Linked DNA regions of Homo sapiens: region 1 is linked to region 2. Evidence: fine-mapped expression QTL. Tissue or cell type: atrial appendage. Region 2 holds a variant in brackets; the other region holds the start of a gene. All regions are shown on one strand. Distances are between the middles of the regions.

Evidence for each region.
Region 1: ASTN2 starts here. The variant in region 2 is fine-mapped to the expression of ASTN2 in atrial appendage (GTEx, PIP above 0.99).

What each region holds. Positions count from the first base shown.
Region 1 is chr9:117,408,910-117,421,428 of GRCh38, reverse strand. It overlaps ASTN2 (astrotactin 2), which reads left to right and starts at 6,372. Exons shown (of 23, transcript NM_001365068.1): 1 at 6,372-6,932. The coding sequence starts at 6,491.
Region 2 is chr9:117,270,762-117,283,280 of GRCh38, reverse strand. The region is part of intron 2 of ASTN2 (astrotactin 2); the gene reads left to right. It also overlaps the pseudogene RN7SKP125. Among named protein-coding and RNA genes, the nearest start is that of SNORA70C, 96 kb to the right of the region's middle. The variant G/A (reference allele first, on the strand shown) is at 6,759.

The DNA.
Region 1 (12,519 bases), 140 kb before region 2:
TACAGAGATTTGGGTACAAGCAAATGAATGATGAAGATGAATTAAACTTGAGTGGACTTGAGAAAGAAAATGCAAAAGAATGAGTGAGGAAAGAGACTTTTAGGAGTATTGTGAGGATTTTGACTATAAAAGGATATGAAATGAAGGCAGTAAATCACAGAACAAGAAGGGGTTGATTTAGAGGACCGGGGACAGACAAAGTGGGAGGTAGTGAAAGGTATGAGCTGGAGAAAAAAGATAATAAATTTGAGAATTGTTAAGGGAAAGAGTCAGAGAAGTGCTGGGTTGAAGCAGAAATCAGTCAAACAGATGCAAGTGGAAATGAAGAACGACAATGGTGATTAAAATATTCTTTCATTTTTCACGAAAGAGAAGTTAGAGACAATGGTAAAAGTTTGCTCTAAATGAGACATAGTGGAAATGTTCTGAAAATGGAAATGAGAAGTGGAGAGATGAATGCAAAGAGACAGAGGTCACAGAAGGACCAAATAAATAGACATTTGGAGGTGGAAAGTAGCTACTAGTACTGATGACCTACTATGTGCCAGACAGCACCAGACACTTTTTTTCTCTTTTTTCTTTTTCTTTTTCTTTTCTTTTTTTTCTTTTCTTTTTTTTTGAGATGGAGTCTAGCTCTGTCGCCCAGGCTGGAGTGCGGTGGCCCGATCTCGGCTGACTGTAACCTCTGCCTCCTGCGTTCACACAATTCTCCTGCTTCAGCCCCCCGAGTAGCTGGGATTACAGGCATGCCACCACACCCAGCTAATTTTTTTTTGTATTTTTAGTAGAGACGGGGTTTGATCATGTTGGCCAGGCTGTTCTCAAACTCCTGGCCTCAAGTAATCCGCCCACCTCTGCCTCTCAAAGTGCTGGGATTAGAGGCGTGAGTCACTGCACCTGGTCAGCACTAGATACTTTCATTTACACCTGCTGGCTCATTCAGCCTTCCCATTACCTCCATTTATAGGTGAGGAAATTAAGTCTAAAAGAGGTTATGAGTCTCATTAAAAATCAGCAAACTAGTAAGTGGTAGAGAAAATAACTTGAACTTAACTCACCAGAAGGTTTCAAAGAATTAAATAACAGTGATAACCATATTTACAGCAGTGTATTTTGGATCCTGCAACAATAAAAATAAAAGCTTCAGGATTGACCTTAGTTTTGTCACTGATGCCAAACTAGATGACGGTGCTGAGTTCGGCATAGGTCAAGATGCTAAGAGGTTGGCAGAACTCAGGTCAAGAGAGTGTCTAGAGCAAGGTGACTGAAGGGAATGAAGAGAAATGGGATACGCTGAGTGATAAATGGAGTCAACATGCTGCAGAGAGCAAAGCACGATTAAAAGGACAATATGAGTTACGGAGAAGGCAGTGATTGAACAAGAGAAAACAAATGGTGGAGATTCGTGGACAGGAAAAGGATTGATGGAAGATTGAGCTTAGATAGAGCAGAGATGGAGCAGAAGATGGCACTCTCTTTTCCTCAATTAGAGTTTATTTATGTTCTAGAGATCATCTGGAGGCTTAAGAAGAAAGACTGTTAAAAAGAATTACTTGAATCATGGGAAGCTGAGAAGGGAGGATGGAAGGAAAGAAGGAAAGGAAAGGAAGAAGGGAAGGAAGAATTGACAGACGGAGGATGGGGGAAGGTTTTTGTTGTAAAATTTAAATTATATTCTCTGTGAAAGTGCAGCTAATGCGAAAACAGTGCCTGTCTCAGTAAAAATTCAATAAATATGTGATGGTTCATTGGCAAAATACTTATTTTGCATCTCTACCCTATGTAGGTTACTGTACTAGCTGGTGTGCACACTGCGGTAAGCAAGACATAGTTGGTCTTTGATATCTGGCAGCTCCCAATCTAGTAAGGAACATACGCACCAAGAAAATGCTCTAATAAATGGACAATTATTGAAATATGGAATGAGTACAATTAAAATGGTTATAAAGAAATATGAAAGGATGTAACAGAAAGTACAGCAAGAGGCTAACTTAGGCTGGGTGGGTGGTCACGTTAGGGAAAGTGCTTTGATTAGCAAAACTTATAGACTAGCAAAAGATAGCTAGTGAAGACGGAGGGAGGTCTCTCCAGGCAGAAGAAAGAGTCCGTTTGAAGATGCTGGGGCAACAAGAGCTTGAAGTATTTCGGGAACAGAAAAGAGATCAATATGGTTGGAATCAAGTGGTGGTGGTGGGGATTATGGGACATGAGGCTGGAGTGGAAAACAGTGGGTGAGATCCGTAAGATGATTGGATTTACTTACAACATTCAAGAGAGCCTCATATGTGCTAGACAGTTTCATACACATCATCTCATTTAATTCACACAGTGATCCTGAGAAGTGGGTACTACTTTCCCCATTTCACAAATGAGAAAAGAAAAGACCTAGTAGGAACTATAAAGTGACTTGACTCCATAGAGAAATAGCAAAGATGATTTCTAAACGAAAATCAACCAGCCTCTTGGGCCTCTGGCTTTTTCAACTACATTAGGATGCCTCAGTCAGGTGGCATAAATACAAGGGATTTTTAAAACAGAGTAGAGTATGGAGAAGGGGGAAGCAGGAAAGAAAAAATATTTCAAAACTACCTAGAAAGGCAAATATGAAAGATGAAAGAAGAGGAAGTATTTGCTAGAAAGACTGGAAAGGAGTTAGAATGAAAAAAATTTTGTATCAGTGGAGTCAAAGATGGGAGTACAGGGGACTGTAAAAGAGAAAGAATTGAATCAATAATGAAATATAACTGAACAAAGAGGGGAAAGGAGAAGGAGTGTGAGGGGCTGAGAGGGAGAAAAGTGGTGGTCATAGGACAGGGGACTCGAGTATGAGTAGGGAAGTTATAGTATACTGGGAATAAGTTGCATGCAAAGGGCTGAGGCCAGGAGGGGCATTCTGTGACAGACAGAGCAAAGATTTGGGAGCCAGGCATTCTTGTATTTCACCACTTGATAACTCCATGACCAAAATCAAGTTTCTCAGCTTCCCTGAGCCTCCGATTTCATACCTATAAAATAGGGATAAAAAGCCTTGCTCCAAATGTTGCTGAGATTATACATCAAAGCAGTAGTTATAATTTATTGAGCAGCTATTATGTGTTAAATGCTTTGTATAATTATTTCTAAAGCCTCACAACCACCATAAGGCAACAGTTGTTATCATCATTCATTGATATGCTACAAAAAGTTTTGGATCACAGAGCATGTGTTCAGAAGTATAAGTCATTTCCTGTGGACATTCCAGATTTGACACTGTCTGTGATATAAAGTTGGTACTCCTTGTCTGCCTTTTCTGTCTTGTCTTCAGTTACTCCCTCTCCCCCTCACTGAGCTTCATTTCCCATCATACACCTTGCTGTCTCTGCCCTCCCTTTGTTTCCACATTCTGTGTTCTCAGCCAGGTGTTTCAGTTGCAAGCAACAGAAAGCAATCCTGAATAATTTAAGCAGAAAGAGAATTCAGAATTCAGTTAAGTGATTATTAGATTCCTTAGAATCTCCAGAAAGGCATGGGATCTGGGTTTAAAGTGCATGAAGTCAAGAGCACCACTCCAAATCATAGCACAGAACTGTATGGGTGAAGATATGTTTCAGCTGCAGCCAAGCATAAATAAAAGGCACTTCACACTGTTGACATTGATATCACTGGGCTCCAAACAGTGCTATTAGAACCTTTTCGACTAGCAGAGACACCTGGATGTAACTGCCCCAACTATTGCCCTTTTAGCCGCCACTGGATTCTGCCTGATTCCGGCTTATTTTTCAGCATCTGGGGTGGGTGAATCTAACTGGTGAAGCCTGGGTCATGTGCCCAAGCTCTAGCTGCAGTGGAGGCTGAGAAAGTATCCAGAAATGTTAGCTTCTTCATGGGAGGTGGGCTGTGCCTTAAAAGATAAAACATTCTCTGATGTAGGAAAGGGATTTATTCATTTACTAAGCAGTTGCAAAGAATGCCAAATGCCAACTTTAACCTAGAATGCCCACTCCCTTGTTACTAATCTTTATGGTTCAATTCCAAAGCCACCGCCTCTGGGAAGCTTTCTTTGATTTCTCCAAGTACCTCATCTTAGGAAACACATGTCTGCCTGCCTGCCCATTACCTGAGATATTTATGTGCCTGTCTCTTTCCGGCATCCCACCCCCTCACCCCAATCATTATAAGCTTTCCAAAGGCAGGAGTTGTGTTTATCCATCCCTGCATCTCCATATAGCACCTGGTAGGCACCCTGAATATTTGGTGATGAATGAATGAATGAATGAAAGTGTTGGTCTCATTTGACAGGCCTTTGTACTAGAGGTCCATGAAGGACTTGCACAGACTCTGCCTTACATAAGGGAGCCCTTTTTTCCTGGTGTGCTCTTCTGTAAATGGACTATGTCAGCATATTTGAAGAAAGGGGCATAGAGAATCAGAAAGCCCCATTGCGGTGGATAGTGGCGGATTGTAAGGACACAAAGGAGAGACTGAGGGAGGCAGGGTGACATATTTTGGAGGAGTAAATGAACTAGAGCAGGCATCAGAGAGGCAGGAGACCATTTAGAATTAGAGGACTTGAAAGGCCAGATTCCACCCCAACCTCCACACATCCTTTGGGTTCACAGATTAGTAAACTGAGACAGGAGAAGTATACCTTACAAACCTCACAGGGAAGTAGATCCAACTGTGCTTATGCAGATTTACCTTTTACAGCATCTTTGATGGGTGGGGTTTTCCAAGGTCACTGAGGACAGTGTAATTTAAGGGAAACAGTCAAGGCTTGAAGCCTACTGTTCAAACCTCAGCTCTTCAGCTCATTTGCTATACGACCTTGGAAAATCCCTTCACCTCCCTGACCACCTGATCTCAGTTTCCTCACATGGAAAATGGGAATCATAATATCCATCTTTTTGGATTATGGTCATGTAAAAAAGCTAACATACGTACATGTCTAGCATTTGGAGAATGCTTTAAACACATTAAGTCCAAGGTCGCAAAACAGCTTTTGCTTTTTTCCTTATTTTCAGTGCTCTGCCTTTATCCAACGTTATTAAAAAATATATGATGAGAGAGGAGAAAAGCAATTTATATGAAGGGTTAAAGATAGAAAAGGGGAATGAGACAGAAGAGGGAAGAGCTAAGAGAAAAGTGAATGCATAGAGACAGCACAAAAGGTGCAGATGGGTAAGCTAGACAGAGATGAGAAGTTGCTCACAAATTATAGGAAAGAAGCATTTGTAAGATTAAAGTCAAGATGAGAAGGAAGGAAATGAATGGAGAGATGAAACAGAAAACAGAGACAGGGAAGATGAAGAAAAGTAGGGGAGTGGGGAAGGGGCTGCACGGCACTTGACCCATGCAGAGGTGTCCGCTCCCTGGAGGGTCTCAGGTATGTGGGTCAGAGACAGAGTCAGCCCAAGACCAAAGGGTGCTGAATCTGAGGACCTAGCTCAACTTGAGTCTAGAAAGACTGCAGGTGAAGAATTGGTGAGCACTCCCGTTCTCTGGGACTTGGGCAGAGGATCTAAAAGACCCGGGAGCCAAGGACAGACAGAATAGTAGGTCTCTACCTCACACCCTTTTCAGGAATTTCACACAGAGAGCAGAAGCAGCCAAGTAGAGCTGCTCCAAGCTGGGAGCAGGGATCCAAAATAAAAAAGCGTGAGTGGGCTGGCTTGCAGGGCGGCAGCTAGGGGGCCAGAACAGCCCGGCTTCAGTCAGTTGTGGGGTCGGCGTTAGACGGTGGAGTTCGACGCCCCTCTGTCCATTAGCAATTAGTGCTAGCACAAGGCCTGGATGGAGGGGAGAGGAAGGTTTGCGGGCAGTGGGAGAATGAATGCAGGAGTTGTGGCCAAGTGGGTGGGAAGGGGGCTCTGAGGCTACAGGAAGTTATTTCAGAGACTAGAAAAGGGTAGGAGATTGGAGAAAGGACTTGTTCTTGGGCCTGAGGGGAGACAAAGTTAAGTCTTGGCTATCCAGGGGGCTCCCTATCCCCAAGAAGGCGGGGCCTTGAGCAAGGCTGGGCCAAGGCGCGCCCCCAGGTGCAGCCTCTGGGTTGAGCCGAAGGTGGGGTGAAGCCAGGAGAACTGGGTTGAGTCAGGGGGGCTTGGGGGGGCCCGAGGGGGCCCTAAGTATTAGGAATTTGGGGAGTTTAGGGAGGGGTGTTGTGGCTAAAGAATGCTGTGAGGGCGGAATTGGGGGATCTTGGGAAAGGGGAGGGAGCCACTGGGACTTGCACGAGGCCGGGCGGAGCCTCCGAAACGCTCGGGGTCTGCGGGGGGAGCCGGAGATCGGGGACGGGCGGCTGGGCCCCGGGAGGCGGCGCGGGGGGGCGGTCCAGGGCCGATCGGGAGGCGGAGCCCGGAGCTGGGGGCTGCTGGCGAGCGGCTCTCTCCGCTCCTTAGCTCGGGCGTCCTGGTTCGCTTCGGCGTCCGCCGTCTCCGCAGCTGCCTCCTCTTCCTCCTTCGCCACCGCCGCCACCGCCGCCGCCGCCCGCAGCACCGCAGCCCCTCCCGCCATGGCCGCCGCCGGCGCCCGGCTCAGCCCCGGCCCCGGCTCGGGGCTCCGGGGGCGGCCGAGGCTCTGCTTCCACCCGGGGCCGCCGCCACTGCTGCCGCTGCTGCTGCTGTTCCTGCTCCTGCTGCCGCCGCCGCCGCTGCTGGCCGGCGCCACCGCCGCTGCCTCGCGGGAGCCCGACAGCCCGTGCCGGCTGAAGACCGTCACGGTGTCCACACTGCCCGCCCTGCGGGAGAGCGACATCGGCTGGAGCGGCGCCCGCGCCGGGGCCGGGGCTGGGACCGGGGCCGGAGCCGCCGCCGCCGCCGCGTCCCCGGGCTCTCCTGGCTCTGCCGGCACCGCCGCCGAGTCGCGCCTCCTGCTCTTTGTGCGTAACGAGCTGCCGGGGCGCATCGCGGTGCAGGACGACCTGGACAACACCGAGCTGCCCTTCTTCACCCTGGGTAAGGCTGGGCGCCGGCACGCGCTAGATCCCAAGGAACCCCGAGCCCCTGCGTCATGCCGGACGGGTGGGGGCGCCCTGGGGATCCCTGCCCGGGGCTGCCCCGAGTGGGGTTGGCAGAGGGTAGAGGAGGGGCCCAGAGGTCGCACAGGTGGTTGGAAACGAGCATGTGGGAGGAGGTCCTGGAGAGCGCGCGGCGGGAGCCTGGGGGCGTGCCAACCCTCCCGCAGTGGGAACCTGCCCCTCTGCCTCTCAGTCCCGACCTGGAGCTCTGCTTGATCCATCCCGGAAGCCGGAGACCCCATTCACTGAAGGTGCTCTGGCTAGGGGCCGGAGCATCCCAGATCCTAAGCCAGTTTCAGGTCGAGCCTCCCACTTCTCCGGGTACCGTCACTGGCCACCCGCCGTCACCGCCCCCTCGCTCTCGCCTCGGAGTTGCGGGTTCTGCCCTTCCAGATGGATTTTCATGAGAGTAGGAATGGAGTAGTTCCGTGTGGAATCGCTCAACCCGCAAAAGCGTGGCTTCCGCATGGGCTGAGTGACCTTGGCCAAGTCGCTTCCCTTCTCTGAGCCTCAGTTCTGGCCATCTGTGAAATAGGGCTGGAGAGACTTGAGTGGTTGCTGAGAACTGGGATTCCGACTCCGAGGTCTCCACGTTTAGAGCCTCCCTCTACCCCCGTTACCGCCTTCCCTTTCTACCCACCTCCAGGCAGAGAGCCGGTTTGTCCTTGCAGCTCACTCCCTGGGCTAATAATAATTACTTAAAGGCAAGAAAAAGGAGAGGAGAGGAGATGGGTGTGGGTGGGGGGCTCCAACGGAAAAGTTAATCAGAAAAGTTCGCCAGCAGCTTGCTGCCTGCTGGTTCCCTGCGCGAATCCCGGAGGAGTCGGCCCTTCAGTGGAGCTGTGGGAAGCGCAGCTGATTTCCCACCCGGGTAATTGATAGCTTAATTATCTCGGAGAGCGTTTACAAAAATGTTGTTCCCCTTAGCTCTCCCGCGCTCGCTGCTTGCTCGCTCTCCCCTCCCCTCTTGGGGGCGCGGGGCCTTATTGGTTGTCGGAGTCTGGCCAACAACAGCGCCCGTGAGGCGCCAGGGGCTCGCCCAGACCCGGAGCTCTTCTTCCCCGGGTCTTTTCCTCGGCGGGATCCGCCTCGGGCACCGCAGGTGAGGGGCCTTCCAGGTGAGAACCTTTACGATCCCTGAACTTCCGAGGTTAACTCCTTGCTCGCCTGAAAAGACCCACAGAATAATCAGCGGACTACGCTCCACTCTCCTGGTAGCCCTGATATTGTTAAAAGTATTTTTGTGACCCACTCCCCATCCTTTCATGCTACCACCTCTGGGGATTTGAGCGAGTGCCAGTGGTTCTCCCGCTCTGAGCTTGAACCTCGGGGGTCGAGCCCCTGTACCCACCCTCGCAGGCTGTAACCTGAGCGTGCCGAGCGTTCCGGGAGGAGAGGCAGCGGAGCGTCCTGCAGGTTCCTCGGGGACTCCCCGCGGCGGCGCTTCTGGGGTGCGACGCACCAAGCACACACACACAGACACACACAAACCAGTAGCTCTTCCCACGTGCACCTGTGGGGCTGCCCATGTCCGAGAAAGGGAAGGAGGGTGGAGGTGGTGTTCCTTAGAGCGCCGCCGGACTAACCTCAGGCTCACAGCTGGCTCTTGCCACCTCCCCGTGGGGAAGGGTCTTTCTAGAGACACAGAAGGTATCCCTTCACTACCACTTCCATTCCTGACCTTCTCCCTTCATCCTTTAGATCTCTCTACTCCGGGGTACTCTGAGAGATGAGGGGTGGAAATCCTCCCGCCCCCCAAACGGCCATTCAAGTGAAGGGATGAGACGGTCCTTGGGTATGGCCTGACTTGGCAGTGAGGACCACAGAGCATTTCAAGTCTTCGAGGATATGGAGGACCTGCTCCAACCATCTGTATAGGTGCCCCGGGATTCCTGGAACTGACAATCTTTGCCATTTTTAACTTTGGCTTTCAAACAGGATGGGTGCCTGTGAGCCTGGGACAAGCTGAGTGAGGACCTGAGCGAGGAATTAGAAGTCTTGATTCCCCCAGGACCCATGTGTTGCTTGAGAGTCTCCTGGCAACAACCTGCACATGGAGACTTCCCCCTCCTCTGATGCACGGTCCCTGAGCCTGGCAGCTTGGGACCCTCTGCCCCTTGGAGAGCACGGGGCTGGCCTCCTTGGCAGCGCTGAGCCTTTTGGATGCATGCGGGGGATTGGGTTCTTGCCTCCTCCTTTTCCCCCTAGCGCCCTGGGCTGGCAGCTTTAGGCGCTCTCAACGGGGATTTGGCTAGCGAGGTAGTCACCAGATGGCTGGGTATAGCAGGAGCTGTGTAGGGAGACGTGGGATTTTTATTTGTGTTGGTCTTCCACTGTTTGTGTGTAAACACAGAGTGCACAATGAGTTCTGGGAGGACCTAGCTGGCCGGAAATGAGAGTTGGTGCCCGCTGGGGGTTGGGGGGGGGAGGGGTGAGGTGGGGGTGGTGGTAGGGGTGGGGTTGGGGCTGATACTATGAGACATTTATGGCCATCTCTTTCTAGTGTCCCAAGGCAGCCCCATCCCATCCCCAGACTTTTAAACATCCTGCCTAACGTTTGTCTCTGGCGAGTTGGGCAGCTTTCACTATCAGCTTATCAGTTCAGGGGATACGGACATGGCCAGTGCCACAGCTGAGCATGCAAAGTTGGTAAATGCCAAACTCTGCCAATAGTGGGGAGTGTGGAGCTACCACTAGGGGGTGATGGTGTCCACCAAAGCCCTCTGGTCACTTTGGGTCCTGGGACCAGAATTAGTGGTGGTAAACCATCCCTGGTATTAAAGGGGGACAAACAAAAAGAAGAATTCTTAGTTTATTCAAACTCCAGTGGGGGACCTCAAGGTAATTTTGCATGCACTATCTCCCATCTGCGTGCACCAAGGTCACCTTCATATTTAACCCTGGCTCCCTCCATTCTGCCTCTTTTGTTTCTGTTATTGGTAATGCCCAGACTGGAAGCAAGTCTTTTTTTTTTTTTTTTTTTTTTTTGCAGATCCTTTCCTTTTTGTATTTCTAGTCTCCCTATCAAATTTCAGCCTGCCTTAAGTAAATGGAAGTTTCCTTCAGTTGTGAACTATCTCCAAAGTTTGTTTGCCTGGGATTCTTCTTTAGAATCTGATTATAAGTCAATGACATTGACAAAGTGAATCTCCCTGAAAGTGATCAAAGAATAGCAAATAGTTATTGAATCCTTAATGTGATGCTAAGAGCTTTCTTCCTGCCTTGTATTATTAATTTACATAACATATATGGAGTGGGCTCTACTGTTACTCCCATTTGCCAGATGAGGAAGTATTTTTAGAGAGGTCAAACGCGTAATCCAAAGTCATGCCAGGAATCAATGGCAGACCTGGAACTGGAATCCTGGTCTGCCAGACACCTACATTCTTGTAGGTTGCTAAACTGGTATTCTGAACCAAATATGAAGTTTATGCAGGTTATGGTGCTGAATAGAGAGGGATAACAATCATCAAGATTGTTAGACAAGAGCTTTTCTCCAAAGGAACTTCAGCTACCTTGGTGAGCTGACCTATGTAAGTTTGAAACTGAAATATGAGTTAAATGACATCCAATGACCCTTCCAGCTCAAAGTTTCATGACTCTTGGATGTCAAAGGGCATTTTATTTATTGGTGCCAATGAGTGATGGAGATGATACATTCTGTAGCATCAGGGAAGGAAGGCATCTCTGTAGAATTGGAGAAGACTGGGGGCACTTTCTGGACCAGAAAGAACCTGAACTAGGCCTTGGAGGATTTAATAGGCAAAATGAGGAAAAGTGGAATGCTAAAATGCAGCTTAGAAATTTAACGCTGGTTAGGATCTGGAAATCTCAGCTTTGGCTCACTGTGACCTTGAATAAGTCATTTATCCCCCAGAGCTTCAATTCTTTCTGCTGCAATATGAGTGGGTAGATGAGCTCTAAAATAATCCTTTCGTGTAAAGATTCTATGAACTTGAAGTGCCCTGACCTACTCCATGACTCTGATAGCTCCTCTTGCTTTGTACTGTCTGTTTTCCTTTACTGGTAACATGAGGGTGGTGGGAAGGACTGATAGAAAAGAAAGAATTTGAGCAGGAACAACTGCCAGCCCAGGGCTTCTAAGGTGAACCTGTATGTCATTCAGTCCTCACTTACCTCCAGGCAGCCCCCGGGGTCTGCTTGTGGATTTAGCTTTCATGCCCACAGGTAGGGAAATGTCATCCTTCTTGCTGTGCTTGATAGTGGTCAGGCAAGACTGTTTACTACCTGCTTTGATTCAGCAAAAGCAGGAAAAAGCAATAAAATTGAATAAGCACTCATTGTCAACATTTTTTAGTAATTTGCTTTGCCATATCAACCTGACAGGAGAGGCGTGTGATCTGTATTTGGGGGAGGGAGTGTGAAGAAAGAAAAGCTATTCATTAGTCTGTGTTAAGTACACCTGCATGCGTAGAGCTGGCGGGGTCCCAAAGGACCATCCCAAAGGCTGCTTTATGCAAGAAGCTGATGGCCTGGAAGAAGGAGGAAGATACGGTTTGAAATGCCAACTTGTTCAGGTCAGCAAATGTTCCTTGAAGGAGTGAGGTGCCAGGAACCTGGCCAGAAGAATGGTTGGGAGAAGGGAGTTTAGCCACAGAGGGCTGGAGAAGCTTCCTTTAAATGTCAACAATGAGCTGAGTGTGGTGGCTACTTGGGAGGCTGAAGCAGGAGGATCACTTATGCCCAGGAGTTTGAGGCTTCAGTGAGCTGTGCCCATACCACAGCACTCCAGCCTGTGTGGCAGGGGGAGACCCTGTCCCTAAAGAAAAGTCTACACAAATTAAGAGTATGTTTTCTGTTGGAGAAGGGGAGGGTGTCTGATTCTAACGAATGTCTTGAAAGATCTGAGAGGATAGAGCTGAGCCCTACAGGAGGCTGTGTCCCCTGGAGCTGTCCAACAACCCAGTATGCTGACCCCTAACGGTAATACAATCCACCTTGTAGGTATTCAAGCACAGACTGGACCTCCGTTTGGCAGACATTCGAAGAATGGACCCACTTCCTTGCAGACCGTTGTATACCCTTATTGCTTTCTGGTTTGGTTCTAAAGGTGGACAATGAGTGCTTACTCAATTTTGCTTTTACCTCCTTTTGCTGAATCAAAGCAGATGGTAATTTTTTTGGAGGGAGGAAAAAATCCTTATAAATAGTCATGAGCTGTGTCTTCTCTAGGGGTTTCTGACCACAGAATGTTCATTAGCATCAATTCCACTTTTTTTTCTTATGTGTGAGAGAAAGATTCTGGGATGGAGAAGCAAGAAAATTTGATTTCTTGAGAGAAAGATAGGATTAAAACAATGTATGTTATTTCTTCATTTGGTCACCAAGTCCTTTACTGCTAATTGAGATATTTGGTTAGCAGTCAAACTTCAAGTTCCCATCTTGGTGTGATGGTCTAGGTTTCTGGGACATTATAAACAAGGGTCTTGGGGGAGGTGGTGTTTAGTGGCCTCTGATCTAATTCTTCTACTCTTTTCCACTCACTTCCCTCACTCCATACCCTA
Region 2 (12,519 bases):
TGGGCAAAGTAGGAAAATAAGCCATAGCTTCCATGTGTAGGAAATATAGGAAATGCTTATTTTTCACAACATTTAGAGATGCACCATAGCGAAGTAGAATGAGCATGGAATTTGGCTTCAGGAGGCCTGGTTTCAAGCTTAGACTTCCACATACCGGCTATAGAAATGCAGGCTAGTCATCTCACCTCTCTGAGTTTCTTGTGTGATCATTTGCAAAATGGAAATAAAATTAAAATCATAACATCAAACTTAATGCACATAAAACCATTTAGCAAGAGTTTCCAAAAAAAAAAAAAAACAGTAGAAGTATGAAATATAGTGGGATCTTGGAGCTGAAAACACCTGAGACCTCATAGAATATCCAACTCTTCCAGGCTAGTCAGCTCTTGCTTGTTTATTCTGCAAACAGACCACTCTAAATCATAGTGCCTTGGCCACACCATGCTTTACTTCTCATGCACCTTACACATCGGCAGCTGCAGTCACTGCAGGCTCAGCTCTGCTTGTCTTCTCCTTCTGGTACTTTGGCTGAAGGGGAGCCCCAGTTTGAAACATTTGGTTTTCATGGCAGAGGGAATGAGCAAGAGAGCTGGCAAAAATATAGGATGCCTCTTGAAACTGATGCTCAGATGTGGGTTCTCTCACATTCTATCGGCCAAAGCACATCACATGGCCAAGCCCAGAGCCAATGGCAGGGGTGTGCAATTCTTTTACAGGGGGTGCACATGCAAGCAATTGCCACAGCAATAGAATGTACCCCACCTTCATGTTGTAGATGGGGAAAATGAAGCTGGAGAATGGATGTTCTTCATCCCTGTCCCATTAGTGTGGGCCAATGATAAAGCCCAGATGGAAAAGTTTGACAAGGGTATCTTGGAGATGGCAAGAGGCAGCTCAGGAAAAGGGCCTGAAGGCAGTTCCACTGAACCTCCTGGCCAAAGCACAATGCAGAATAAGAACGTGTATAGCTATAGCTATGTATATATAATATGGACAGAGGGAAGCAGAAGAAAATACCGACAGAAACATCCAACCCATGTTGATTGAGAAACTATTCTATACTAGGTACGTTGAAATTACTAGAGACGGAGAGAAATAAAGAAGAAACTGAGAGAATGGGGCACCAAGGATGGGAGAGACATAGAAAAATAAAGGAGAATTGGCAAGAACAGACAGAAAGGGATTTAGCAACAAAAGCAGAGATGGGGGAAAATGAAACAGAGAATAAAAAGCATGGAGGAAGTGATACAGAGAGAAGAGAACAGGAAAAGAGAGAGACAGCGAGTAAGAGAAGCAGATGGAACTCAACCTCAAGAAAGGGCTGGGAGTCGGGTAGCGAGGTAGATGGAGTGAAGGGCGGGCAATCGGGGTGATCCGAGGCTGAGGAGGCAATCAAGCCCAGACAGCATCCAGCAGAGATGAGAGGGCTGGAGGCAGGGGCACCCAGCACTGTGGATCTGAGAAGAGGCCATGGCAGGGCAGGGTGGACTGGATTGCAACAGGGAGTCTGGGAGAAGGGAAGGAGAGGGGAGATCCAGAGACTGCAGGGAAGTAAAGTGGGGAGGGGCGGACAGGTTGGCAAGAGAGTCAGGGCGTGTGTCCCCTTGGTGACCATTCCCAACTTCCTCTGCCCCAGCCTCCTGTTCCACATTTTCCTCCCCTTCAAGAACCTGGGGCTTTTGTGTGGTATTTTAACAGCAACACAAAATGAATGCTGTGAGCACATTTGCAGTGAGGTTCACGCTGTTTACTCCCTTTCTCATATGCCCCAAATAAGCCCACAGTAAAAATGGAAAGTGAGCTTTGATTTGGATATATTGGAACTTCTGCCTCTCCCTTCAATTAATCCACCTTTCTCCCTCCTTCCCAGTCTTCAGAGCATAGCTTGATTTGGTGGGAATCACGTGGTTTTGGAGACAAGACAGATGAGGACTTAAACTGTGATTCTTTCCCTTACTGCTGTGTGTCCTTTGGCACATTACTGAACCTTTCTGAACCTCACTTTCTCCTGAGCTGTAAATGAGGCGAGAGATCCACATTCATGGGGCTGAGGGGAGGAATAAGTGATAAAAGGCTCATGAAGCATCAGCAAGGTGCCCAGGGAAGGTCCCTTTCTTCTCCTTTGGCCTCTAAAAATATTCTTCCTACTCTGTTATCGTTCTTGGCCTTCACAAACATCCTTTGAGCTATGTTGGGAGGTTATTAAGAATATTGACTTTAAAATACTGATATAAATAATTGACTAAATAAATAAATGGGGCAGAAAAGATTGCTCTTTCTTACAGTAGAATTCCAGTTAATAAATGTAGAAGGAAAGAGGGAAACAGAAAATCACCATTAGGCAATCACCACTGTAATAATTACTACTGACAAGATCCACTGATGTATACTAAAATTAATGGTGAAATTTTGAGAAGATATAGGGTATTTGTGGAGTCTCAAAGTGTCTCCCCCCAAGACATTTATTAATTACAGAAGGAAAATAGTGACTTTACAGTGGAGAAATCTGGCCGATACCACTTGTATTTGCTTCCTAAGGCTGCCGTGACAAATTACCATAATTTAAGAAGCTTAAGACAACAGAAATTTATTCTGTCACAGTTTTGGAGGCCAGAAGTCTGAAATCATGGTGTTGGCAGGGCCACACTCTCCCTGGGGCTCGAAGGGAGAATCCTGTCTTGCCTCTTCCAGCTTATGGTAGCTCTTGGTTTTCCTTGGTTTGGGCTATTGAACGCTAATTTCTACGTCCGCCTCCATACTACATTCTCCTGTGTCTTTTCTTCCATGCGCCTCTCATTAGGATGCTTGTCACTGGATTTAGGGTTCACCTTGATAACTCAGATTGTTATACATAAGATTTTTTTACTCAATTACATCTGCAAAGACCCTTTTTTCCAAATAAGATAACATTCACAAACTCCAGGGATTAGGGTGTGGGCATATCTTTCTGGGACCCACTATTCAACTGACCACACCACCTTAACCAAGTCATCAAAATTAACATCCTCACTCATCAGACACATTGACGTTATGAATCCACTGAAGTAATGCACTGATAAGGACAATGTCATTTCTGTGGGTTTCTTGCCAAAAATGTATAACCATTCTAATCATGAAAAAATATGGACAAACCCAATGATGGGCATTCTACAAAATAATTCACAAGCAATGGTCAAAAGTGTTAAGATCATAAACAACAAAAACAACAACAAGGAAAACAGTAATTGTCACAAATTGGAGGAAACTAGGGAGATATGACAACTAAATGCAATGTGGGATCCTGGACCAAAATAAAAACATTAGTGGAAAAACAAGGACATTAGTGAAAAAAATTAAAAAAATTAGTCCTTATGAGAGACACATGGAAGAGAAGGCACAGGGGAAGATGGTATGAAGATGGAGAGAGAAATGAGCATTATGTAGCCCAAGCCAAGGAAAACCAAGAGCTACCATAAGCTGGAAGAGGCATCATTTGTGAAACTTGTATAAGGTCTGTGGTTTAGTTAATAGTGTTGAATCATGGTTAATGTCCTGGTATTCATTATTTTATTATAGTTATGAAAAATGTTGACATTGGGGGAAGCTGAGTGAAGAGTACACAAGAGCTCTCTCCTAAATTTGCAACTTCCTGTGAGTCTATAATTCTTTCAAAATAAAAAGGCTAAAACCCAAAACAAGAATGTTGACTTTGGGACAGAACTGCCTGGATTGGAATCCTGGCCTCACCACGTAACTTGTAGAGTGACATTGGTTAAGTTACTTAACTTCTCTGTGCCTCTGTCTTCTCAACTGTAAAATGGTGAGAGTAATAGTTTCTACAGTTAAAAGTTGGTAAATATGCAAACTCTATACAAATGTTGTATTAATGATACTATTGATATTGCTGTTTTTACTGTTCCGTTTTCACAAATGATAAAACCAAGGTCTAGAAGGTTAAGACAACTCTCTAGTATGATCACATAGCCAGTGTCCGAGCCCAGAATTAAACATATATTTCTAGTTCCAAATGAGCTCTCTGCTCCATCTGCTGTATAATATTTCCTTTCTTATAGGGGGCAAGGATGGATAAGGACTTTTTAGGAGCTCATCTCCATAATCATCCAATTACGAGACTATGAGATATTGAGGCAAGCCTGACCCTGGACCATGGAAGAAGGCAGCCAGTTCTTTCTGGCCACAGATATTTAGAATTGATGAAAACAGAAATTTCTGATTTAATTCTCAAAAAACAAAAGCGTTTTAAAAACTCCAGTTCAACCCCTTTAATAGAGTGAAAATAAATACAAAAACAAAGCTTTTAGGTCTCAAAGGGTGACTCACGATGTCTTACAGCAGGTTGATGACAGAGCTGGCCTTCCCATCTAAATCTCAGGGCAGTGTGCCTGTGTCAGGCTATAAACTGCACCCAGCAGAAGGCCCCTTGCTCCATGCTGAGGGAGCCACTCACGCTGTAGGTTCAGCGCAACTACATTTCACTTCACTGTGGTAATCCTGTCTGCAAATCCACCGATACAGTCAAACAATTACCCAATTCAAACTTCGGCTGCTAATGTTCCCAGCTCAAGGGCGTCTTTAATAGCAAAATAACACTTGTTTTTTCTTCCTTCCTTCTCTGTTTTTTCCTAATCTCTCCCTGATGAGACATAACATTAATTACAGCAGTTAACAGAAATTCTGTCTCCATTACTGCCTGCCACCTTCTCCATCTTGGCTTCCGCCTCTAAAATTTCTCTCCTGAATGAAGAGGGGGAAGGGGTTAGGCAGATGTGGTGATGGTATTTATTTACCTTTTTCTCTGCTCACCTCCTTTGTGCTGAATTTTAAGTCAAGTAGAATCAATATTTTCACTGGGAGTGTGCGTGAGTGTGAATGTGTGTGTGTTGTTTGTGTGTGCCTGCTTCATAATCTAGCTGTCATTTTGAGCTAATTGTGTTGTTTCCTCTTGTGTGGAAGGAAATCTTATCTGTTTTGGATTAAAATTCAATGAAGGTCATAGTGGCTGGAAAACTTACCAGACTGCTGCAATTAATGTTCATTTGGCTTTGATAAATTGGAACGTTCTCCTCAATAGGACTGGAGTGGATTTCAGAAGCAATAATTCTTCCATTAATTCAATGATTCCGCCTGTGACGGAGGACCTTGTCCTGCTTTTGTTTGTCATCTGTCACTTGGAGGAGCTGGGCATATGTCAGAGATGATTTATCATGATTACAGCGCCTGCTTGTATTAAAGCATTTAAAACCACTAATTATTTTTACCCCCTGTAAATTGCTTTATTAAACAAAATGTGAGGTTGGAATTGAGGTAGAAAATTTTTTTGTGTCTATGTTTTCCACAGTTGAGGGATTATTACAAGTCATTTGCAAGAGCTAGGTGAAAATGAATCTATCAGAGAAATAATACCGAGCACTTACCATATGGTGGGGAATATGCAGGGAAGTTTATGTGCATTATTTTACTTATTTCTTGAAACAGTTATTTAGGGTAGTTTACCCAGATCACCTAGGAGGAGACTAAAATCCATAGATAATATATATTTCATCCTACATAAGCAACATAATATTGGTAACCAAGTGTCATGATTCTAAAGTCCTTGCACTACCACTATTACTAGGAGGTTTAAAAATTGCCTGATATTATTTTCTCCTGTTTACTGTTGGTATTTCACTAGGTGTGGAGCAGGATTTTCTTCCTACATAAGAATTACCTAGGGTGAAATTTCTGGATCATATGGTAGTTCCATTTTTAATTTTTTGAGGAATTTATCTACTGTTTTCCATAATGGCTGTACCAATGTACATTCCCACTAACAGGGCACCAAGGTTCCATTTCATTGAGTTATATACATTAAATATGCACAGCTTTTTACATGTTAATATATCTCATTGAAATGGTTTCAAGAATAAATTTACTACCACTACCAACAACAAAAAGAATTCTCTTGTGTGTTTGTTTAAAAGATAGTTTCCTGAACCTTACCCTATGTATGCCTGATCTGAACACCAATTAGAGGTTTTGGGGAATTTACAAAGGTGGAGAATCATAAACTTACAGCTCACTGAAAGCTTGTTTGGAGGTTCTAGCAGGGGCGTGCAGCTACTGTATGCCCTTGACCAAAAAACAGTCCTCCTCTATTGGGGATGGCCATCCTCTTCAACGGAGCATACAGCTTTGGGAGGGACACACATAGAGCAGTGAGGGGGGAAGAGGACACCTCCCTTGCCAGACAGATCAGCTGAATCAACCCTGGAGGTCAATGGAGTGACAGATGTTGCAGCCAGATCGCCCTCATGTCCACCTACAGTTCATCGAAACCATTAGGGGGAAAGTCACAGCCTTAACATGCTAATTTTTAAAATTATTATTTAATTCTCACAAAATCCCACCTGGCAAGCATTGATATCTCCATCTTATGGATTGGATCATTGTGGTACATCAAGTGAAATGGCCTTGCCCAAGACCACACAGCTAGGGAGAGACTGAGCTGGGATCCACATCCTGTGTTTGCTCTGTTGGCAGCAAAGCTCTTGCTTTCCCATGGCAGCCTTATCTCATCCCCCTCTCCCCCGCCCTTGTCTCTCTGTGCCCTCAGCCCTCCCTTCCTCCTCTAAAATTCTGCAGGGGTACAAGCACAAGCAGCTCCGGGCTTTCCCCATGGACACCCTCTTCGGTTCCTGTTTTATTACAGTCCTTATGTGTCCTGATGTTCCCCTAATGAAGTGTCCAGAGGCCTGCCCTGTCTCAGCTTTCCTTAATAG[G/A]GAGTGAAATATGTTGGTGGCTGTGCCAGAGGCTTTGTTTAGATGGTGTGTAAAGTCACCAGAGGCTGTCTGGGGGGAGATGAGGGTCAGTTCCTCTCTCTTGTGGTAGCAGATGTTCTCAGGTGAAGGATTCCCACTTGCAGGGAAGGTCTGGGCCATCAGAATGATTGCAACAGCCTAGTATGGGAGAGGAGAGTCTGTTGGACGGGATCTCTCAGCCTTTTGATAACCGTGTGATCTTGGGCTAGCTACTTGCCTTCTCCTGAGCCTTGGTTTCCTCAAATGTAAAGTAGTGCCAACAATAATACCTTCTCAAATAAAATCATTGTGAGGCATGGAAGCATCCATGTTAAGTACAGACTTGGTGCCTGATAAATAGAAATTTCTCAATAAATTGTAGCTGTTCTTGAAGCTCAAATGCTCTTGACCAACTAACATTAATAGAACATGATCCCATTTAAAATTTCATTAAAATCTCCTGACAATATATTAAGCAGGTGTTTTCAGTCAGAATGGCAGATATTATGGACTGAATTGTGTTCCCCTGCAAATTAATATGTTGAAGCTCAACCCCTAATGTGACTGTATTAGGAGATACAGCCTTTAAGGAGGTAATTAAGGTTATTTGGGGTTATAAGAGTGAGCTCCTAATCCAACAGGACTTGTGTCTTTATGAGAAGAGACACTAACTTTGGGAGGCCAACGCAGGCGAATTACTTGAGGATAAGAGTTCGAGTGAGAACAGCCTGGTCAACATGGCGAAACCCTGTCTCTACTAAAAATACAAAAATTAGCCAGGCATGGTGGCACATGCCTGTAATCACAGCTACTTGGGAGGCTGAGGCAGGAGAATCCCTTGAATCTGGGAGGCGGAGGTTGCAGTGAGCCAAGATTGCACCACTGCACTCCAGCCTGGGCAACAGAGTAAGACTCCGTCTCAAAAAAAAAAAAAAAAAAAGAGGGAGAGATAAAAGACATCAGTGAAAGCACACCCACAGCAGAGAAAGGGCCATGGGAAGACAGGGCAAGACGGTGTCCATCTCTAAGCCAGCAGAAGCCTTACCAGAAACCAATCCTGCTGGTGCCTCGATGTTAGACTTCCAGCCTCCAGAACTGTAAGAAAATAAAATTCTGTTGTTGAGGCCATCCAGTTTTTAGTATGCTGTGATGGCAGTGTGGGCAGACTAATACAGATTTTGGTACTGTGAAGTAAGGTGTTTCTGTAAAAAAAATTCCTAAAAATGTGAAAGTGGCTTTGGAATTAAGTAATGGGTAGAGGCCGCAAAGAGTTTTGAAGTGCATGTTGGAAAAGCCTAGGTTGCTTTGAAAACACTGTTGATAGAAAAAATGGATGCTAAAGGTGCATGTGGTGAGGTTTCTGATGGAAATGAGGAAGATGATATTGGAGAATAGAGGAAAGGCAGTCTTTGATATACAATGGCAAGAACTTTGGTGGTTAATGATTATTCACAGATGAAATGTGTAAGAATATACTCATTTTCTGGATGAAAAGCCTGAGATTGCTCAAGGTCACACAACCACCCAAAACCTAGATTCAGCCTTGAGCCCATGCTGTCTTCATTAGCATATTGATTAAGAAGCTCAACCCCTAACGTGACTGTATTAGGAGATATGGCCTTTAAGGAGGTAATAAGGTTATCTGGGGTTATAAGAGTGAGTTCCTAATCCAATTGGAAGAACAACTAACTCAGAGGAAAGGCCCACCCCTTTTGAAGACCATTTCTTGGCCTACTACTTGTATGACCTGGAAATAGTTGTCTAACCTGTCAGAACCTTACAGTGATGGAGTGAGGCCTTGATGAGATAACTTGAAAGAAGTTCTTGGTAACTCACCTATACGAAGTGCCATGGCACCTCCAGTGTTGTGAAGCCTTTCTTCATATCTCCAATATTCTGTTTTCTTGACTTTGAATTTAAGATGCTAACTCATATCTTCAAAGATTGTGTGGAATGAAATGAGATAAAGCAGGCACAATGCACAGGAGAGTGCCTGGCACATAATAGACACTGGGTTCATGGCCACTGTGATTATTATTACTGGTAGCCTCCCAAGAACCCTACAGATTAGAGATTCCTTAGCTTGGGAAGCCCTCAGATTAACCAAAGACAGGTGATGTTTTCTGGCCTGTTCCAACCCAGACTATTTTTTTTTGAGACGGAGTCTCGCTCTGTTGCTCAGGCTGGAGTGCAGTGGTGCGATCTTGGCTCACTGCAACCTCTACCTCCCAGAGTCAGGCGATTCTCCTGCCTCAGCCTCCTGAGTAGCTGGGATTACAGGCACATGTCACCACGTCCGGCTATTTTTTTGTATTTTTAGTAGAGACGGGGTTTCGCCATGTTAGCCAGGATGGTCTCGATCTCCTGACTTCATGATCCATCTGCCTTGGCCTCCCAAAGTGCTGGGATTACAGGCGTGAGCTACCACACCAGACCTCCACTCCAGACTTTTGTTGGGAGGCGCCTGAGTGGAGAAAGGCCCATAACCATGGGAGATAACAATTAGGGTCTCAGAGTCACCCAGGGGACTATCTTCTACTCCTCAGAAGGTGAAGATATGTCTGGCCTGACCAAGTGATGCAAAGTGAAAAATGAGGTTGTGACATAGCAACAACATCTGTGTCATCATTTCTGCACCAGGAGGTCAATTGGTTTGATAAACTGGGCTGCTGCCAGAGCAGTCTTTGTTTAGGAATTAATTAGGAGCCACAAAGAACTGCTGCTTGTGCAGATTTTGGTCTCTGGAAGTTATAAAAAGCAGATGGATTTTAAGCAAATGCGTTTTTCATCCTTTAACACCATGTGAAAGGGTATATATTAGAGCAGGTGGCATGGAGGAATGGGCAATGAAAATGGACACCTGAGCCATCCTGTTCTGCTTCTGTGTGCTCATGTGCATGGCCCCGTCTTTTTGGCTGCTGCTGTTTGTGCATCAGTAAAACTTTGTTATTAATAATACCATATCCTGAGTCTTTTTTATGTCCCAAGAATAGCACTAAACACTTCACACACTCGTCCCTTATCTAATCTCTACAGCACTCCATTGAGAAGGCTGTTGTTAACTAACCTTTACCTGTGAGAAAACTGAGGTTCAGGAGGGAAAACTCTTCTACTAGAATGGATGGAGCTCAGACTAGAGCCCTGATATGGTTTGGCTGTGTTCCTACCCAAATCTCAACTTGAATTGTATCTTCCAGAATTCCCATGTGTTGTGGGAAGGACCCAAGGGGAGGTAATTGAATCATGGGGGTTGATCTTTCTCATGCTATTCTCATGATAGTGAATAAGTCTCACAAGATCTGGTGGATTTATTGGGTTTCTACTTTTGCTTCTTCCTCATTTTCTCTTGCCACTGCCATGTAAGAAGTGCCTTTTGCCCTCCACCATGATTAAGAGACATCCCCAGCCATGTGGAACTGTAAGTCAAATTAAACCTCCTTTTCTTCCCAGCCTCAGGTATGTCTTTATCAGCGATGTGAAAAAGGACTAAAAATACAGTAAATTGGTACCAGTAGAGTGAGGAGTTGCTGAAAAGATAACTGAAAATGTGGAAGCGACTTTGGAACTGGGTAACAGGCAGAGATTGGAACAGTTGGAGGGCTGAGAAGAAGACAGTAAAATGTGGGAAAGTTTGGAACTTCCTAGAGATTTGTTGAATGGCTTTGACAAAACTGCTGATAGTGATATGAACAATAAGGTCCAGGCCGAGGTGGTCTCAGATGGTGATGAGGAACTTGTTGGGAACTGGTGCAAAGGTGACTCTTGTTATGTTTTAGTGAAGAGACTGGCAGCATTTTGCCCTTGCCCTAGAGATTTGTGGAACTTTGACTTGAGAGAGATGATTTAGGGTATCTGGTAGAAGAAATTTCTAAGCAGCAAAGCATTCAAGTGGCGACTTGGGTGCTGTTAAAAGCATTCCACTTTAAAAGGGAAACAGCATAACAGTTCAGAAAATTTGCAGCCTGATGATGCAGTGGAAAAGAAAAACCCATTTTTTTGAAGAGAAATTCAAGCTGGCTGCAGAAATTCACATAAGTAGCAAAGAGCCTAGTGTTAATCCCCAAGACCATGGGGAAAACATCTCCAGGACATGCCAGAGACCTTCACAGCAGCCCCTCCTATCACAGGCCCAGAGGCCCAGGAGGAAACAGTGGTTTGTGGGCTGGGCCCAGGGTCCTTGTGCTGTGTGCAGCCTAGGGACTTGGTGCCTGTGTCCCAGCCTCTCCAGCGTGGCTGAAAGGGGCCAATGTACAGCTCAGCCTGTGGCTTTAGAGGGTTGAAGCCCCAAGGCTTGGCAGCTTCCACATGGTGTTTAGCCTGCAGGTGCACAGAAGGCAAGAATTGAGGTTTGGGAACCTCTGCCTAGATTTCAGAAGACGTGTGGAAACGCCTTGAAGCCCAGGCAAAAGTTTGCTGCAGGGGCAGGGCCCTCATGGAGAACCTCTGCTATGGGAGTGTGGAAGAGAAACGTGGGGTTGGAGCCCCCACAGAGCATCCCTACTTGGGTACTGCCTAGTATAGCTGTGAGAAGAGGGCCACCATCCTTCAGACCCCAGAATGGAAGATCCATCAACAGCTTGTGCAGTGCACCTGGAAAAGCTGCAGACACTCAATGGCAGCCCATTAAAGCAGCTGGGAGGGAGGATATACCCTGCAAAGCCACAGGGGTGGAGCTGCCCAAGACGTTGGGAACCTACCTCTTGCATCAGCGTGACCTGGATTTGAGATCTGGAGTCAAAAGAGATCATTTTGGAGCTTTAAAATTTGACTGCCCTGCTGGATTTCAGACTTGCATAGGCCCTGTAACTTCTTTGTTTTGGCCAATCTCTCCCATTTGGAACAGCCGTGTTTACCCGATATCTGTACCCCATTGTGTCTAGGAAGTAACTACCTTGCTTTTGATTTTACAGGCTCATAGGTGGAAGGGACTTACCTTGTTTCAGATGAGACTTTGGACTGTGGACTTTGAGTTAACGCTGAAATGATTTAAGACTTTGAGGGACTGTGGAAGGCATGATTGGATTTGAAATGTAAGGACATGAGATTTGGAGGGGTCAGGGGCGGAATGATATGGTTTGGCTTTGTTCCCACCCAAATCTCAACTTGAATTGTATCTCCCAGAATTCCCACATGTTGTGGGAGCACCCAAGGGGAGGTAATCGAATCATAGGTGCTGGTCTTTCCCATGGTATTCTCATGACAGTGAATAAGTCTCATGAGATCTGGTGGGTTTATTGGGGTTTCTGCTTTTTCTTCTTCCTCATTTTCTCTTGCTGCCACCACGTAAGAAGAGCCTTTCACCCTCCATCATGATTATGAGGTGTCCCCAGCCATGTGGAACTGTAAGTCAAATTAAACCTCCTTTTCTTCCCAGTCTCTGGTGTGTCTTTATCAGCAGCATAAAAATGGACTGATACAAGTCCAGGATGTGGGAATCCCAGGTCTGTGCTAGTAGCCGCTATGCTAAAATAACATTTTCTCATCTTCCTGATAAAATGCCGTGAGTGTCCATTTGAAAGTATCTGTTCAAAGCTGAGTGAGAAGCTTTGAAGAGAAGATCTTAGAAAACAAGGATTTTCATGTATGGGTCAATGAGGACCATTTATACTTTCACGAATCAACTCTATGTTGACAAAAGTTAATCACTTTTAAAAGAATGCATTCCACTTAAGTGATAATAGTTATAATAATGCTAGGTAATATTTGTACAGTGCTTTGGCAGATTCAAGAAAATATCCACACA